Homo sapiens: one gene and its partners. The protein of the gene in region 1 interacts with the protein of each later gene in a pairwise test. Each region holds a gene or a part of one and is shown in the gene's direction. Other genes may lie near its edges.

The links. Proteins that work in one complex are often made in the same cells at the same time.
Region 2: the proteins of ZDHHC15 (region 1) and TMEM222 interact in binary tests that used the Homo sapiens proteins (3 or more experiments, as listed by UniProt).
Region 3: the proteins of ZDHHC15 (region 1) and CLRN1 interact in binary tests that used the Homo sapiens proteins (3 or more experiments, as listed by UniProt).

Annotation. Positions count from the first base shown.
Region 1 is NC_000023.11:75,367,892-75,373,043, reverse strand, and holds the end of ZDHHC15 (palmitoyltransferase ZDHHC15), read left to right. Parts: intron 1-98; 3' UTR 99-4,617; downstream 4,618-5,152. UniProt on the Homo sapiens protein: Palmitoyltransferase that catalyzes the addition of palmitate onto various protein substrates.
Region 2 is NC_000001.11:27,332,124-27,336,902, forward strand, and holds the end of TMEM222 (transmembrane protein 222), read left to right. Parts: intron 1-1,834; coding exon 1,835-1,931; intron 1,932-2,027; coding exon 2,028-2,158; intron 2,159-2,543; exon of another isoform or gene 2,544-2,631; intron 2,632-3,255; coding exon 3,256-3,343; 3' UTR 3,344-4,277; downstream 4,278-4,779.
Region 3 is NC_000003.12:150,969,726-150,977,697, reverse strand, and holds the start of CLRN1 (clarin-1), read left to right. Parts: upstream 1-4,970; 5' UTR 4,971-4,989; coding exon 4,990-5,242; intron 5,243-7,972. UniProt on the Homo sapiens protein: May have a role in the excitatory ribbon synapse junctions between hair cells and cochlear ganglion cells and presumably also in analogous synapses within the retina.

The DNA of each region.
Region 1 (5,152 bases):
GTAATTTTAATGGTTGCATATTATTGTCAAGTGGGTGTTACCACATGAATATTTACAGTTGTTCAGCTCATCTGTGAATTTCTTCTCTTCATTCCCAGGACTCACCATCTCTGCCTCCCATGAGGCTTACAGAGTTCAATGTTGGAAATCATTGTAATCTTCAAAATAAGTCACCGTGTTGGATTGAAAGCTTCAAAATTTGAAAGAATTCCATCAAATACTTGCTGTGTAAATGTTTCTGGACTTTATGTTATTTAATTTACTGACTGAAATCCAATTTGGAATTTGGTAGCAGTTAATTCAAGCCAATTTTTTTTGTTTCTTCATTTCCCCTCCCCCAATCCATGAAAGCCTAAATGTAAAATATATCTTTTCATTCATCTTATCAGGTAAAAGGAAATTCAGAAAATTTCCTTAGAGTCTTTAATTCCCCCACAAAGATTATTAATCACATATATAGGGCCTTTTTGGTGTTGAAGGGAATCAAACTACATTTGCTGCTTGTGTGCGTGTGCATTTGTGAACACGTACAGCATATCTATACAAAATTCTGCTATAGTGTGAAAATCAGGGCTAAAAACCTGAAGCCTTTGTTTAATTATGCTTTTCCTCTAAATAGCAACTTAAATATTTGCTAGACTTTGAATCATCGCTATATCAAGTATCTAAAATTTGGGAGGGTGAATCAGTACACTGTGACCAAGGTCCTCAAATTGGAATTTGAACAACAATGTAAAACCTGTTCTGTCACAAATGTTCCTGAAAGCACCACAGCTACTCAAGAAGATCAAATTCAGGACATAAACTTTATTGAACATAATAACCAGTGTTTTTTAAAGACTTTTTTGTCAGGGTGCAGTAAAATTCTCCAATTACTTTTATTCATTTATCTGCTTCCTAGTTTTATTTTAGCCTTTATGAGTTATTTTATGATGAAAGAAAATCTATAAGCCTAAGTTATGGCCCATAGGTTTTGTTAAGGGTTTTCAGAGTGATTTTCAGGTTTAATTTCACTGCCTTTCATAAGGGTAAAGTTTCACAGCTGACATTAGCCTGAGGATTAGCACTAAAGAGCTGTGTTTTCATAGCAGGGGCTATTGTACAGACAGTGATAACCAAATAGTAATATGCCAGTTCTTTCTTCTTTTTTTAGCTTCAGTAGTAGCTAAGCCATTAATACAGTTTGCATCAATTTCCCCATTTATTTATAATCAGCCTTTCTTTTAGTCCTAGTGCCTGAATCAATGAGTGAGAATACTAGTACTGATTCTTTACAATAATAATATCTTAAGAGTATTGATATCTTTCATTTTTTCATCCAGCAGTCTAGTGCCCAGCTGCTGACAATAAAAGCTCCAACTCTTTTAGAGATCAGTGGAATTTAGAAGCATCTTACAGGTATCAAGGAATTGAGCTTCTAGAGGGATGGTTTGGCTTACTAATTTATCTTCCCTGAAATATGTTTGAGTAAAAAAGAGTTGCCTGCCACAATTTAGTGTTGGGGTTCCAGTGGAGCTGAGAAAGTGAACAATCCAGCTACTTAAAGCAACAACAAAACCTGTTCATCTGGATCCCTAGGTAATTTTGACCAAGGTGAGACTTTTGGCATAAATTAAATGGATTGTGGTCAGCATTACATTTGAGAGAATACTAGACATGACTACACTTATTAGGGCTAGTGACTTTCTCAAACTCAGAAGCTAAAAAGCAGCCTAGATGACTATGCACACACTGGGTTTCAAGATGAAATCTTCTTATATATTCAGATGGAAAAAAATTTCCCCTTACACTCTTTCTCAAAATACTCTCATTTCGGTTTTTCCTGAAACCTTATTTGGCCATTCCCATGGTTTTATGACAGACAAGCCTTGTCTTCTATTCATATAGATATGCACCTTTTTCTACATGTATGGCCTTTACTTACTACACAGCAAGTAGGCCTCAAAGTAATCTTCCTCTTTCCCATCAATCATCTTCTGCCAAGCATTCAGGCAGAGCAGCTGTTAACTGTGATTCAAAGTCAGAAAAACATCAAGAACTTCTTTGATGCATAGGGTGTATCAGCACTCAGCTCCCACAGAAGTCAAGTCACAAAATATAGTGTCAGTTAACTATAAGGAAGTTCCGGAGAGGTAAAGCTCAGGAAAGATGTAATGCAAAGCTGATTGTTTAATGTCTTACAGATTTACACTGTCTTTAAAAGGCCAAATAAGGCTGGGCGCAGTGGCTCACACCTGTAATCCCAACATTTTGGGAGCCCAAGGCGGCCGGACCACCTGAGGTCGGGAGTTCAAGACCAGCCTGACCAACATGGAGAAACCCTGTCTCTACTAAAAATACAAAAATTAGCCAGGAGTGTTGGTGCATGACTGTAATCCCAGCTACTCAGGAGGCTGAGGCAGGAGAATCGCTTGAACCTGGGAGGTAGAGGTTGTGGTGAGCTGAGATCGTGCCATTGCACTCCGGCCTGGGCAATAAGAGTGAAACTCTGTCTCAAAAAAAAAAAAAAAAAAAAAAAAAGCCAAATAAATCAGGGTTTTACCAGGGGCTCAGAGATAAAAAGAAAACCTATTCCTATCTTAGCATTTTGGTCTCATTGGTTTATAGACTCTGATAATATCCCTATCCATGGATCATTTGAGTATTGACTAATGTACATAGGTACCCAACTGGTTGATTATTAATCAAGAATACAGAACTTTATTTAATAATTAGCACACCCTGATCTGGCTTCTTTGCTTGCTTTTCTTTGGATCCCTGTCCAATAACCTCTGTGGAATCTCATTCCCTAATTGTTGATACTCATTTTCTCCGTTTGCAAAATGAAGATACTCATTGTTAGGATCCTACTGCTGAAGGGTGCTATGTCACTTTCTAGTGCTCTTATATGTCTTTAATTATAGGACTGGAATGAAAAGCTTAACCATACAGTATTTCTAAGCAAAATAATGTACTCCATTCTTTTGTCCATGCTCTCATTGCTGATTTGTTCTTGCAGGACTTAGAGCACTTTGTTAATGTTCTTCCATTCACTCCAACAGCGTCCTCAGAAAGAGACAGAATAAAAAAATTGTTCCCCATGGTACAGCTGGAAAAATTAAGGGGAAAAGAGATTAAGTGGTCCCCAATGGAACACAGCTGTCTTATGCAGGGCTCACAGTTACCATGTTCAGTACATTGTTAAAGTAACTTGGCTTCCCAGGACTGGAATTATCATGGAGCAGTTAGAATTTTGAGAGTAATTACAACAGGATCACATTCTGAAAGAGTCACATTTTGTCAAAAATCTGAAAAGTATGCAATTTGTACAACTCTTACTTTCTATGTGATAAGAATGCAATATGTGCCTCTTTCCCCTACTAGCCCCATGTGACACATATTTTTCACACTATGTGGCATCAACCAGTGCCATTACCTCCTGTGGCACCATAGAGCCCAATCTCAGGGCAGACATTGCCAAGGTAAAGAATGCACTCCATGTTTATACCAAATTGCACAAAGTATAGACATTGAGGTTAATGGAGATTTAAGCACAATCCTAGCAAGTAAGTTTTAAGAATACTGAATATTATACATTATTGTAACATGAACCTAAAATTAATTTAACAGGGCCCAAATTCATAGGAATGTAACAGTCATTGAAAGCCTATTCTTTTCACCTCTCATCACACATATCTACATACATGTATGCACATGTACACACACACACACACACACACACACACACATACACATTTTCTCCAAAGCAGGCTGCCTCTTCAGCAGGAGCAAATACTTTAATTTAAAAGAATGATTATCTGTTTTCTCCTTTTAGAAAAAGAGTCTAAGAAACACAGCATGTGAAGAACATTAGATTTATACATTCCAGAATCTCTGCTCTCAGAGTAGCTAAGAGATTCGGTACAGAAGACGTTCTATGGAGAAGCACAGGGGGCATCTAATGAGATTGTCAGGCCCTTGGACAAGATCCATATTCTTAGAAAATTAATGAGTTCCATCTCGTTAGGAATTGGTTGATGAGGTATGGTACATCTGCATTTCTTTAACCATAGCTGTAATGTACCATATTAAATTGTAGCCTTTTGCATGCGGGTATTATATAATAATGAATGGGTGGCTCCTAGTAGCATGCAACCCATGACTGTTTACTTCCCTAAAAGGGTTAGGTCTGTGTCCTGCACAGTGTTCAAAACCATTAAATGTGTTCTTTGTAGCAGGATGGTACACAGCCATCAGCAGAATGAGTTAAAACCAACAATGAATTCAATATACCAGGAAATAGATTGTTAGTAGGGAATGGCATTAAAGGAAAAAAAAATTAGATAAGATGCATTCAAGGAATAATTACTTTCACTCTGCTGGCTTAATCAGTGAAGGAACATAAAAGGAAAGCTGGCAGTGGGTCTTGGTAATATATGAACTATATTAGAGTGCCAGAAAAGGAGACCTCAGAAGTTAAGCATAGGTTGCCAATCTGCTACAATTATTTTTCCCACCAATCTGCTCAAAATGATTGTATATAGTATTCTTAAAACCATGTGTCTTGGTGCAGAAATATTGACAAATGCTGGCCAGCTTTATCTTCCTATATCCTTCATTAAAAGTATATGCATATAATTGTTGGTTTTTTTTCCTAAATTGTGGCTTTGTTAAACAATGTTGACAAACCCTAAAGTTTCAGACTACTCTAAGGAAGTTTCTATACATCTAATTTCATAGGGGTATAGTGATGTTTGTTCACTCAGGTTGATTGGTATGCGTGGTATGTAGACTTCTCTGTAACATCTCACCTTCTGAACAGCCCCTTCCATGTGTTCGGTATTTCTGTCTTATGTTCCTACATGAATATGAATTGGGAAATTAGCTGCAATGGCTTTTAGATAGAAAGCTGACCAGTCTAGTGACACTTAATCACATTCAGTCTCTACTCAGCCTCACACATCTTTTGCCTTTCACTCTGCCATTGTGATGAAAGGAAAAAGAAAGAACTTTTCTTATGTGCCTAAGGGTGAAGTGAACTCTGGTTTGCTTTTTCTTACACTGAAGGCTATGTGTACTATTCTCCAGATGCATGTCACCTGAAAAAAGATACATAGAGGGGAACAACAGACACTGGGACCTATCAGAGGGTGAAGGGTGGGAGGAGGGAGAG
Region 2 (4,779 bases), on another chromosome or scaffold:
ACTGGCTCTAGAGGCAGGTCGCTCCTGCCGGGGCGGGCCAGGCCTTCTGGGGCACAGGAGGGGCCAGCACCCTGAGAATAGAGTATTTGGGGTCGGGGGAGAGGTCAGCCAGGGTCCACCAGAGCATGGCAACCCCATACAGAGTGTGTACCGCACCAGCCCCTGGCTAGGGCCTTTACCTGTAGACCATCTGGGCCTTGCCACAGCTCTTCAGGTTTGTATTTTCAACTCCATGGCAAGGGTGAGGAAAGGGAAGGGACTTGGTCAAGGTCACACAGGAAGTGGCAGAGCTGGGACCCACACCCAGATCTGTCTCCCTCTAGACTCACTCTCCTGCCCTTTGGGAACAAATGAGGCATGGAAGGTAGAAGAGAGGCATTGTTTGGAGCTCTGCTGGAAAGTTCTGGTTGGAGAGAATAAAAACCGTTCAACCTTCTGGGAGCTATTGCTGGTTTGGTTTGGGACATTTGGTCTTCATCTTTGCAGTCTCGGGTGCCCACCTCAGCTGTGGGCCTGGTGAGAGTGCCTCAGTCATCAGTGTCCTCAGGTGACCTGTTGCCCAAGGCTGCACTGGGAGGAGAGACTGGGCCGAGGAGGAGTTGGTGTCCCACACAGCTGAGATGGCCTGGAGCAGGGCTTCCTGCTGCCCTCTCTGGCTTCCTCCGGCAGGCAGCAGTGTAGTCCAGGAGTCTCTGGGCCACCAGGTGTTCGCTGCCAGACTGCTCTTCAAGGACAGTTTTAAGGGCATCATTTTCCAAGCAGTAGCCCCTAAGCGGCCCCAGTCCAGGCCATGGTCTCTAGACTCCTCCACCAAGCCATTCCCCTACACAACAGCCAGGGGGCGCCCTGACCTCCCAGCTCTCCTTGGCCTGAGACCCACCGGGCACTCTGGTGCTTGGAACAGCAATTCTCACCCACCTTGAGGTTTATGGGCTTTAGCACCATCAGCTTCCCTGCCACTCACCCTGGCAAGCTGCCTGGGAGACTAGGGGAGAGTGCTTGCTGCTGGGTAAACTCCCCGCGTGATGTGGCCTCACCTGCATCTCCAGCCTTAGCTGCCAGCATTCCATCACCGTGTTTCTCTTTCTGCATCCTCCAGGAGGGCTCAGTCACTTCAGTTATGGGACATGCTGCACAGTTTTATGCCTGTCACTTAGCTTAAGCTGTTCCCTCAGCCTGGAATGCCCACCTCTTCTTTCTATGCCTGCCTAACCCTCTTCCTTCATACTGGACCCAGGTGTCACCTCCAGGAAGCCTTCTCACACCCCATCTTAGTCCGTTCTGGCTGCCATAACAAAATCTCATCAATTGGGTATCTTAGAAACAACAGAAATGTATTTCTCACAGTTCCGAAGACTGGACAGTCCTGGGTGCGGGTGCTGGTAGAGTCAGTGTCTGGTGAGGGCCTGAGGTGCCTTTCCACTGTGTCCCCACGTGGTGGAGGGGTGAGGGGTCTCCCTCAGGGCTCTTTTATAAGGACACGGATCCCATTCATGAGAGCTAATCACCCCATGGCCTAATCACCTCCCAAAGGCCCCACCTCCTCATACCATCACCTTGAGGGTTAAGATTTCAACATATGAACTTGGGGACACAGACTTTCAGAGCATAGCACCCCCAATTTCATTCCATATCCCCCCAGGATCCCCCATGGCACCAGCCACCTCACCCTGTGTCACAGTTGACTGCCACATAACACTTGCCCCAGATCTGGCTTACTGTACATCTCAGCACCCAGCTCAGGCCCGGGCACAGGGCAGGCCTCAGAGGACGTGCGTAGAGCTGAGGGCACAAAGGAGCCAAGCAAGTGTCCAGAGCCCTTCTCTCCCCCCAGGTACTGGAAGTTGGACCCTGCTCAGGTCTATGCTAGCGGGCCCAACGCATGGGACACGGCTGTGCACGACGCCTCTGAGGAGTACAAGCACCGCATGGTAGGTGGGCCAGGGCGGCACCGGCACTCCCCAGGTGGGGACCAGGGGGGAGGCTCCCCTGCAGCCCATCCTGACCAGCCCTTCTGGTGCCTCCAGCACAATCTCTGCTGTGACAACTGCCACTCGCACGTGGCATTGGCCCTGAATCTGATGCGCTACAACAACAGCACCAACTGGAATATGGTGACGCTCTGCTTCTTCTGCCTGCTCTACGGGAAGTACGTCAGGTGAGCTGCCCTCCTGCCTGCCCACCCACACACTGCCCAGAGGCTGCTCTCCCAAGGATCCTAGAAAGACCATTCCTAGCGTCCTTCAGTCAGCCAGGACAGTTGGAACAGATGCCAGTTGGAGCCGTGGTGGTTCTAGAGTGACGAGCTGAGGGCCTGATGGAGAGGGAGGTGGCTGTGCTGAAGTCCAGCTCCACCTGGGCCCCAAATGCAGCTCTGGCTCTTGCCTGCTGTGAGACCATGGGCAACTGCCTTGGTCTCTCTTAGCCACAGCTGTCTCTGGTGAAATGCAGGCAATGATTCCGGCTCCTCAGGGAGGCTTCTACGGATCCCTGTGCTCCGGTAAAGTGAGCAGATAGATCCTCTCATAATGACTGCCCCACAGGTCCCTTCCTAGGCAGAGAGATTGAGTGAGTCGCCCATGGTCGCCACAGCATGGACACAGCAGAGCCCAGACTCGTGAGCCAGCATAGGTTAGTGCTGATCTGGCCGCCTCTCCAAGCTTTCCTCTTAGCCACGTTCATCATTAAGAGGTTCTGAAAAGAAGACTTTTAGGGATATTTTTAAGTACTGCATGGCTTTTAGAAGTCCCCTGAGAATAACTGGTCACACAGAGGTTGAACCCAGACCCCTGGCTCCCAGCTGCTTGGCTCCAGCCACAACACTGCTGACCCTTGCCAGCCCCAGAGCTCCCAGTAGTCCCCATTATGAAGTCCATAGGCAGAGGGCACACGTGGCTTCCATACCCAAACTGCAATTCCTGGTCCTCTTGCTGGAGACCCTAGAGGTAGGTGGCTATAGATGGAGCCAGTGAGGCCTAGAAATGGGGAGCATGTTTCCTGTTCCCAACCAGCGAGGTGTCAGTAAATCACCAGGAGCGCGGAGCAGCCCCTGCCCGGGACCATAGCTGGTGATCCCCCATAGTGGGCAACCATGCCCAGCCTGCTTCCTTGATTGGCCAAGTTTGGGGTGAGGGGGTGGTTGGGTTTTCCTTAGGGATGGCAGCCCTATTGGGGTCTGTGGGTGCTCAGGGCTGCGGGCCGCATGCCTGCTCACCAGGCCCTGCCCACCTATGCTCGCTCCTTTCTCTCTGTCAGCGTTGGGGCCTTCGTGAAGACCTGGCTGCCCTTCATCCTTCTCCTGGGCATCATCCTCACCGTCAGCCTGGTCTTTAACCTCCGGTGATGGCTGCTCGGTGGCCCCACACCCACCAGGGTCCCGAGGAAACAGCCGCCATCCCTTTTGGTTCCAGATTTTTTTCTCCTCACCCCAAAAGGCAGGGTTGGGCCTGCTGTTGTGGACCGGGGGTCGGGGCTGGCAGGATGGAAGGACTGAGGACCAGCATGAAGTGGGGGTTTGTTGTCTCCCTGCCTCTCAGAAGCACCCTGTCCCCTCCTCCCCAGGCCTGTGACTCCGGCCCTGGAAGCCCCTTTGTTCTTCTGTTGAAAGGCTTTGGCTTCCCGCTGTAGAGCTGCTCCCGCCACCACCTGCTGGGGTCCTGCCTCAGCCCAGTGCCCAGTATGGGGAGAGGAGGACATTTGGGCTCACCTGTCAAGGTGGCCCTGGGACCAGAGCTGGTCCCAGCATGGGGTGCACCGGGTACACTTAACGTGTCTCTATAAGCCAAGTTGCTTCAGGACCTTCACCACTGGCCTCTAGAATGGTCCAGAGGGGCTGGCTGGGTCCCTTTGTCAGACTCCTGCCGGCAGCTGCCCTGGGGGACATGTGTGCCCATCTGGCATCCTCCAGCCCGTGCAGTCCGCTCTTCACTGTTCCACGGCCTCCCAGTGCCTCCCAGCATTGGACCCATCTCCCCCTGCAGTTTGAGGCCAGAGAGGTGAGTGGACCTGACAAGTGCCAGAGTAACCGTGTAGACAGAGCAGTGTAGACAGCACTCAGCCCCAGCCCCAGGTGTGGACCTCATGCTGGTGATGGCTCCCCTGGGTGGCCTGCCAGCACAGCCAGTGCCATCAGGGAGCTGAAGGGGCTGTCCCCCACCTAACTCCAGCTCCCCCTTCACGTTGTCACCAAGGCCCTGTGCCGCCCGCCTCGCCCCCCTGCTCTGTGGATTCCTTTGGGAAGGGCTCCCTGGGCAGGACAATAAAGAGTTTTGACTCCAGTTGGTGCCCTGTCATTGTTTTCTCCCTCTCTGGGGCCCCCTTGCCCCTTAGCTCATAGCGTCTTGGTATTCTTGGGACCCTATTACCCTTGACAAGGGTCTAGTTGCCAGCACCATGGTTGAGTCTGCGTCCAGTGCCTGGGGCCATCAGCATCCCTCAGGTATATCCCGCCCCTGAAGTCTGGGGATTCCCTGCCATTCTCCATTCCCCATTCCAAAGCTTTCCTCTTGAGGCAGGTGGGCATTGAAACCCCTTCCATCGTCCCTGTTGGGAAGGACTTGTAGGCTTGGGGTTAGGGCTGAGTAGAGCCTCCACTGCTGTCCCCACCACCCGCCGGGGTACAGAGTTGGGGATGAGCCAAGAGCACTGCCAGCCTCTGGTCACTGTATCCATCCAGCCTTCGCTTGCCTCCGATCCTTTGCTCTCCACCATCCCTCTCATGGCGGCCCTGCCTAACCAAGGCCCAGCTTAAAAGCCGCTTCCTCCCTGAAGCCTTTCCCA
Region 3 (7,972 bases), on another chromosome or scaffold:
CCTCTCTGTGGCTTTTGTGTCAGAAGCACAATTCTTTCACTTATTCTAAATGTCTCCACAACCATCATCAGCCCCAAAAATCCCTGTACTGAATTCTCTCCTCTCAGTCCAAATCCACTGCGGGTTCATCTGTATTCCAAGAGAACTTTGTTTTCTTTTTCTTCCTTTCCCTCAATCCTTTTAATCCTCTAGTTCAAGCAATTAGCTCTACAAATATTAGCTGCAATCAAGGTCTAGCACATGTGGTAATTTTCTCTCTAATAAATCAATCAATTCTTTCCATGGAGTGTTTTTTTCCTTTACAGTCATTAGAAAATTACAATGCTACTTGAGGATCACCAGCAACTTGAATTAGTCAAGGCACGTCAATCAAATTTGCCAGATTTTGCTTTAAAGATGAGAAAAATGGGGTAGATTTACAAAGGCCTCTTGTCTTAGAATAGGAAGCTTGATAGACCCTTGTTGAATCTCTCTTAGAGAGGCCTTGGAGTATAATGATCCATTTGGAGGAAAATCAAAATCAGTACTACCAGTGACAAATCAGACAAAACATAGAACCTCTCATTAAATAATCTAAAAATTAATAATTGGAATAATCAGCCATGCAGTGTCCCTGGGCAATGCAATATTCCGTAATAGCTAACAGGTTAGCACAGCAAAGAAAAAAGAGACATAATCTAGCAAATGGCCAAACTGTAGTTCTATGGCTTATTAAATTTTTTTTTCTTTAGTTAAATGGGAACTAAAGGAGCCAAACTGTGCTTCTCGAAGCTGTCTTTCACGTTGGGGATAGGACACTGTAGGGAGTAGGGAGCTGGGGAGCCCAGTGACAACTCCTTGATCACCCACCCTCCCAGTATAGCAGCTCGATTTTTGTCTTATTTCACACAAGTTGTGTTGAGGCAATGGTTTTTCTTCTTAAAAATGATTTGAGAATCACCTATGCAGCCCAGACCACTCTTTTCATAAATATGTAAAATTAATGCCAGAGAAGGAATTCTTAATTTAGCCATACAGCTGGAAATAGACCCTGGACAGGATCTTCCCATGCCATGCTATACTGTCTCTTATACTTGGCGAACAAACCAGGTGAGAATTTGCATCCCTTTGTAATGGGGCTGCTTTTTTTCTTTTGTTTTCAAATGGTTATAAGGAAAAACTGATGCAGCCAAGTTAGTGTGAGAAGAGGCACAAATGCTACACTGGAAGTGAAAACAGAGTCTGCAATTGTGCTCCTTTCTCTACAGAATCTCTAGTCACTCTGAAGAATTATATCATTATCCAGCACCTGAAAGGGGTCAGAGGAGGGGGAGGCCTAGTTCCATTTTCTTATGTCACCGAATGTATTCCTATTAAGATTGAGAGAAGTAAAGATTTCAGCAGGATACTTGGTGAAAACTTGCTGACATTAATGACTCAAATTCTCAGAGAGACTGCAAGGAAAATGGTGTCATCACTGTCATTCAAGACATTTAAGATGAAATTTCAAAAGAAGGCTGTCAGGCATAATGACTGCCAGGTTCCATTATATCATTCTCAGAGGGTGGATCACACACACTACTACGCAGCCTGTGGGTGGCTGATGCTGAAGTTTGAAAGGAAGCTGCATGGAGAAGAGGTGAGGGGGGCTGCCTCACATGAACAGGATACAGCACCATTGATATTCATATGGTGATTTGGGGGTAAATCTATGAATCGGGGCCTGGTCTTTTGTTGTGGATATGCTGAAACCTAGTGCTGAAAAAATGTAGGAAAGTTTGAGCTGTAAATGGTAGTGCCTATTTATTAATTTGCTATGAGCATATTCCTCTCTAGCGACCCAGATGCTCATGTCTGTGTGCATTCCAGCACTGAGATGCCTGCAAAGCCTAGTTTGTAATCAGTAGATAGCCATGTGAAAAGGAGATAAGGGCAGTGGCTTCCAACCTTGGCTGCACAATGCAATCACCTGGGGTGATTCGACGCTAAGGCCATACTCTAAAATCAAATAAATCTGAATCTCAGGGATGAGGACACAGACATCAGTACTTTTAAAATCTTCTCAAGTGATTCTAATGAGCAGCAAAACTGAGAACCACCGTGTCAAAGCAAAGGGTGAGGTTTTAGGCCTCAAAGGGTGAGTCTCACCCTTTCCACTCAGGGATCTTTTATGTCATAGAGCAGTGGGTTTGATTTGGTTTTGTTTTAAATCAGGAGTAGACATAGGTTTGCCAGTTTCTAAATTTGTCAAATAAAATCATTAAAAATTCAACTACCATTATCTCATTAAAGAAAGAAAATTTCAACAATAAAAATTAGGAAGGGCCTAACTTCAGGATATAAGAGTAACTCAGTATGTTGTATTTATTTTTCCCATGTCTCTACAGACGAGTGAACATGTCGCTACAGACTGATGCAAACTGATGCAACTGATGTGATCTAATTGCTCTCTACACCCATAATCAAGGCTTTCCTCCTTGGACAGCTTTAGATATACTTGGCTGAGTTTGGGTTAATTAAACCGCTGTCCTATGCTAACTATCCTTCTCTTGCCATATCCTTTAGTAGAGGTTATTAATAGTATTGATTAAGTTGTAGGTGATTTCTTCTCCCAGGCTTTGGAAATGTTCTGTCTCTTCCAATTACAGAATATGTTGATTTAGTAAGCTCAGCTCTGCTTAGACATCTTAAACTAAGTTTTCTAGGGTGACTGTGGCACATATATGCCCAAATAACCACTTATCAGGGGCACTGGCACCCCCTTGTTTTGCTAGTGGACCATGATAGCGATTATTCTAAATCCAGTGGTGAATTCATTGGAGGGCCAAATAAACTGAGATGAGTTGCTTATTCTGTGTTCTAGCAATTATTCTAAATCCAGTGGTGAATTCATTGGAAGGCCAAATAAACTGGGATGAGTTGCTTATTCTGTGTTAAGTTATACAAAATAAAAAAGACTTACTAATATTGTAAACTTTATTTTAAGTGCCTCTTTGGAATCTTCTATATGCCCAGTTCTTCTGTGGCCATGTTTTATATTGCCCCTCTTCTCCCCGAAGGTACATTGGCATTCTAGAATGAGTTCTATACTTAGTTGTCTGTCCTTAACGAGACTGGCTGTTGCGACTCCTAGGAGAGGCGAGCTGTGAGAGAAGTTTACCAGTACTCCGAGTCTATACCTCAAAGTTCCCTTCGAAGTGTGCATAATGTAGAGACTCATTTATGCTGAAAATGGTGTGAAATAAGTCTTCATTTATTAATTTCCTCTAAGCTGTCATGCTTAAAGGTGGATCAAAAGAATAGAAGCTAGCATACACATGTGCTTTTGGCCAACTGAAAAAGTTCTATTTACTGATGTCTGTGTTCTTCAAACACTCAATATGTGTAACTAATAATGGGCTAGTCTGCCCCTGTTACTCCTAGACGAACCCAACCCAAACTGAAATGTTTGCCATCTTTTCAAGGTCAGGGGCTTTGCTTGGAATAGAACATCAACCTCAGAAGTAGAAGACCTGGATTTGAATCCCAGCTCCACTACTCTCTTCAGCAAGTTGCTTAAACTCTCTGAGCCTCAATTCCCTTATATATAAGATACGAATAATTGCTTTTTCTTCTTCTTTCTTCTTTCTTATTCTTCTTCCTTCTTCCTTTCTCCTCCTCCTCCTCCTTCTTCTCCTCCTCCCTCCTCTTCTTCTTCCTCTTCTTCATTACTTTATATGCTAATTATGAGAATTACATATGATAATTTAGGTAGAATACTTCACAAGTTGCCAGACATAAGTTCTTACTAAACATTAACTTTGTAGGTCAGAGCTCAGGACAATAACATGGCATATAATAAACATTCACTAGACACTTCACACACACACACACACACACACACACACACACACACACACACACAGTCCTGTGTCTGTAGAAGGAGGAATCTCATTGGAAATGCAAAGTTAAAAAGCTGTTACTGAATTCTGAACTTTAGTTTCCAGGTCTTGACCGTTTAACCAGACCTACCTGCTGCTTAATCTTTGCTCATAACTGTCTCTAGTCTCCCAAACAGATTACCTTTGCTGAGACCTGTGCATTTTTATGATGAATCCATAGAGTCACCTATCTGACCACCATCCCTCTTTCCATCAATATGCCCTTATCTTTACAGATCCTGGTATTCCTTGGACCCAGAAACACATTCCCTTGCTATTATCCTAAAGCAGCTAAGCCTGTTAAAGGAAAGCATTTAGAAATCTAGATATCTGCTCCTGCATTTTCATATTTCTGTATGCCAAGAAAAATTTGAATCAAATTCTCTATTGATACATTAGGTATAAACCATGGATCTGGGAGAAATTAAGTTGGAAGGACAAGGACCCATGGTTGATCCAGAGCACTTAATATTCGTGTAGGACCAAATTCTGTTTAATATTTTTATCCTGCTGTAATTAAAAATTTTTGACATCAACTATCAATACAGGTACATATGTTCTCCCTACCTCTGCTAAAGCTCCTTCCCCCACCACCAAAAACAATAACAAACAAAAAACAAAAATAAAAACATCGATAAGTGAACTTCTCAAGTTGCTGAAAATGTACCATCAGATTCAAGCCTGTTTCTGAAAGTTTCAACTCACCCAATCAGACAAAAGGCTGAGGAAGGGAAACATTTATCAAGTTACACTGAGGACTCCATCTGTTATCTTCGACCTTTGTTACCAAGTGACACAGAGGAGATACTTGAAGGCAGTTTGAAAGACTTGTTTTACAGATTCTTAGTCCAAAGATTTCCAATTAGGGAGAAGAAGCAGCAGAAAAGGAGAAAAGCCAAGTATGAGTGATGATGAGGCCTTCATCTACTGACATTTAACCTGGCGAGAACCGTCGATGGTGAAGTTGCCTTTTCAGCTGGGAGCTGTCCGTTCAGCTTCCGTAATAAATGCAGTCAAAGAGGCAGTCCCTTCCCATTGCTCACAAAGGTCTTGTTTTTGAACCTCGCCCTCACAGAAGCCGTTTCTCATCATGCCAAGCCAACAGAAGAAAATCATTTTTTGCATGGCCGGAGTGTTCAGTTTTGCATGTGCCCTCGGAGTTGTGACAGCCTTGGGGACACCGTTGTGGATCAAAGCCACTGTCCTCTGCAAAACGGGAGCTCTGCTCGTCAATGCCTCAGGGCAGGAGCTGGACAAGTTTATGGGTGAAATGCAGTACGGGCTTTTCCACGGAGAGGGTGTGAGGCAGTGTGGGTTGGGAGCAAGGCCCTTTCGGTTCTCATGTAAGTAGCAATTGCATTTGAGTTATTTAATGCTTTAGGCAGACTCTTCCCAGTGTTGCGAGGAATTATATTTGAGAATTTTGCCGTGTTTACTGCAGGACTTTTTAAATCGGTGTGAACCATATGAAAAACCTATGACTCTGAGCAATTTCTTCTTCCTAGTTTTTATTATTTTATACTTGCTTTTTATTATAATATAGAGTTAATTCATTGTTACATAATTAAGGTTTTTGGAAATATTGGCAATTAAGATGCTTAAGTATTAATATTTATGTAAAAAATTATGGAGTCTTTTTAAAAAAGTAAACTTGGGGAAATAGGAAAGCTGTAAAGAATGATCTTTATGCTTTTTGTTCTTTATAAAAAGAACCAAGGTCATGGGCTCCGTATTTAACCAGGTTGCCACCTTTCTCATGATTTTGTTTCCTGCTCCCCACTCCCTCCCATTATTCCTGCTAAGACCTTTCCTGCTGCTAAATATTCAGTTTTCATTTTTAACTAATTTGGAATCATTTGGCTATAGAAATTTAAAATGATCTGCTGTGCTAACTGGGAAAGAAATGGATGCCTATTTAGTATAGAACATTTTAAACTGATTGACCTGCAAATCATGTAGAGAATATGAGAGAGATTTTCTTGTTGTGATTTTTGTGAAATGGAAGTGTAATCCACAGTATTTATAACCTGTTTATCTTAAGAAGAGAATTTTTAAAAATTACCATGTGAATAGGCAACTCATTAAATGAAAATTAATAGGAAGTCATTTGTTATATCTCTTACAACACACATTCAGAAGTTATTATTATTTCAGAAGGGCTGGTTTGGAACAACCTTATGAAGACACAGTCAGTAAATTACTGCATAAATCACTCTTCAGGAAAGGAGGTTACCAACTGAAGCATTTAAAATGAATTATTATTTTGCCCAGGTTTTTTTTTTCTTTCTAGTATAGGTAGAAGGCTAAATTAATTGAATTTATTATTAACATATGCAGTGCCTAATTAAATTTCAGTGCTGGTCTATTTATATTTCTGCAACATTCCTTATATCTTCTTAGCAGTCATTGGACACCAACCTTCAGCTCACATAGGTTACTAAGTGATATGAATTTTCATAGGGCTCCAGAAAATTTCCAAGAATTGGTTGTTAGCTTTTTAATTGATGAAGTGGATACCAGTTCTTTTCACTGAATGGCTTTTATTCATTAAGGTAATGGGGCTGTTAGAGTTGCTTAGTTTTCCTGGGGAAGGGGAAGGAAGAAAACAAAGCAGAATGTCATGTGATATGCAACTGTATTAAAAAACCGAAAAGGAAAAAAGTTGAGAGAGATGATTTAACCGTGAGTCACCGGCAGCCAAAGCGTGAGTAAAGCTTCTCACAGATGAATTTAGACAAAAGCGGAGAAGGTACTGGTGAATTTTCTGGAGCCTTTACATTTTCTACAGTGAAATGGAGATAAACTTTACTCATGCCATAGGACATGTTTCAAAACAATAATAAGATGTTTTCTGAACACTTACTACATACTAAGCACTTTATATGCTTTGTCTCATTTAATCCTTACACAGCCACATTCTTCTGGGGTTTAGCGAATGATTTTTGTGGTTGTGTCCTATGCTTGTCCTGTCTAAGGATGAAGTTGTTCTAATTGGGTGCCCCTCCTTTTGCTTTCTGTGAGGACTTGCAGAACTGGTGGGGTTTAAACAGTACCCTCACTTATCTCACAGAATTTCATTAGCTCCCAGATACCCCTGACATTCTCCCCCTAGCCTAGTGAAGAAAATCTTCCATTTACTTGTTCATTCTGCAGTGACAGCTCCATCAATATACAATAGACTATACATATTAAGTGTACTGTATATACTATACATGTTAAAAATCTCATTCATTTTGGTGAGGCCCAGCTAAGAATACTTACAGTAGAGCTTTTTTTTTTTTCCTAAGCATAAAAGTATCTTTTTCAATGCAGCATGAGACAGAGTTGGGAAAACCAAAATAAATAGATCCAATGGACTCCCCAAAGAGGATAATATTCATTTAAATAAACACCCCTCTCAGTGTTAAAACTTTCTAATCAACATGCCTTTGGGACACATTGCACCCTCAAAGTTTACACTCCCATTGCAACGCAGCTTTGTGGTTCACGTTTTTTCCATTCAGAATGTCATTACCCTGTCAATGATGTTTCATCAACGTTTGCTTGGATGAGAATCCTCTGATATTCTTCCTGATAGAAATGTATAAGCCCTGTTCATATAAATGAATAAAAGATCTAACCTTACTTTCTCAGTAGTGGCTTCCTTGGAGCAAAAAGCAGGGACCTCCAGAGAGCTCAGGTGGATGACTCTTTTCTGTTTCTTCCAGAGCTCAACTTACAATTAGTGCACAATTCATTTCCCAGAATGTCTTCTTTCTTATTGTGCCTTTAGAAAGTTATTAAGCAAACATTTGAATTCACAGAATCTTACCAGTGTAAGAGGAATGGAAAAGGTAACTTATCAAGGTAACAATCACTTCGTGGCCAGTTTTTTCGGCTCACTGCAACTACCCCTCCTGGGTTCAAGCGATTCTCCTGCCTCAGCCTCCCAAGTAGCTGGGACTACAGGCGTGCACCACCATGCCCAGCTAATTTTTTTTTTGTATTTTTAGTAAAGACAGGGTTTCACCATGTGGGCCAGGCTGGTCTCATGGCAAGTTTTCTTTGTGTTGTCATGTTATTATCAATTAATA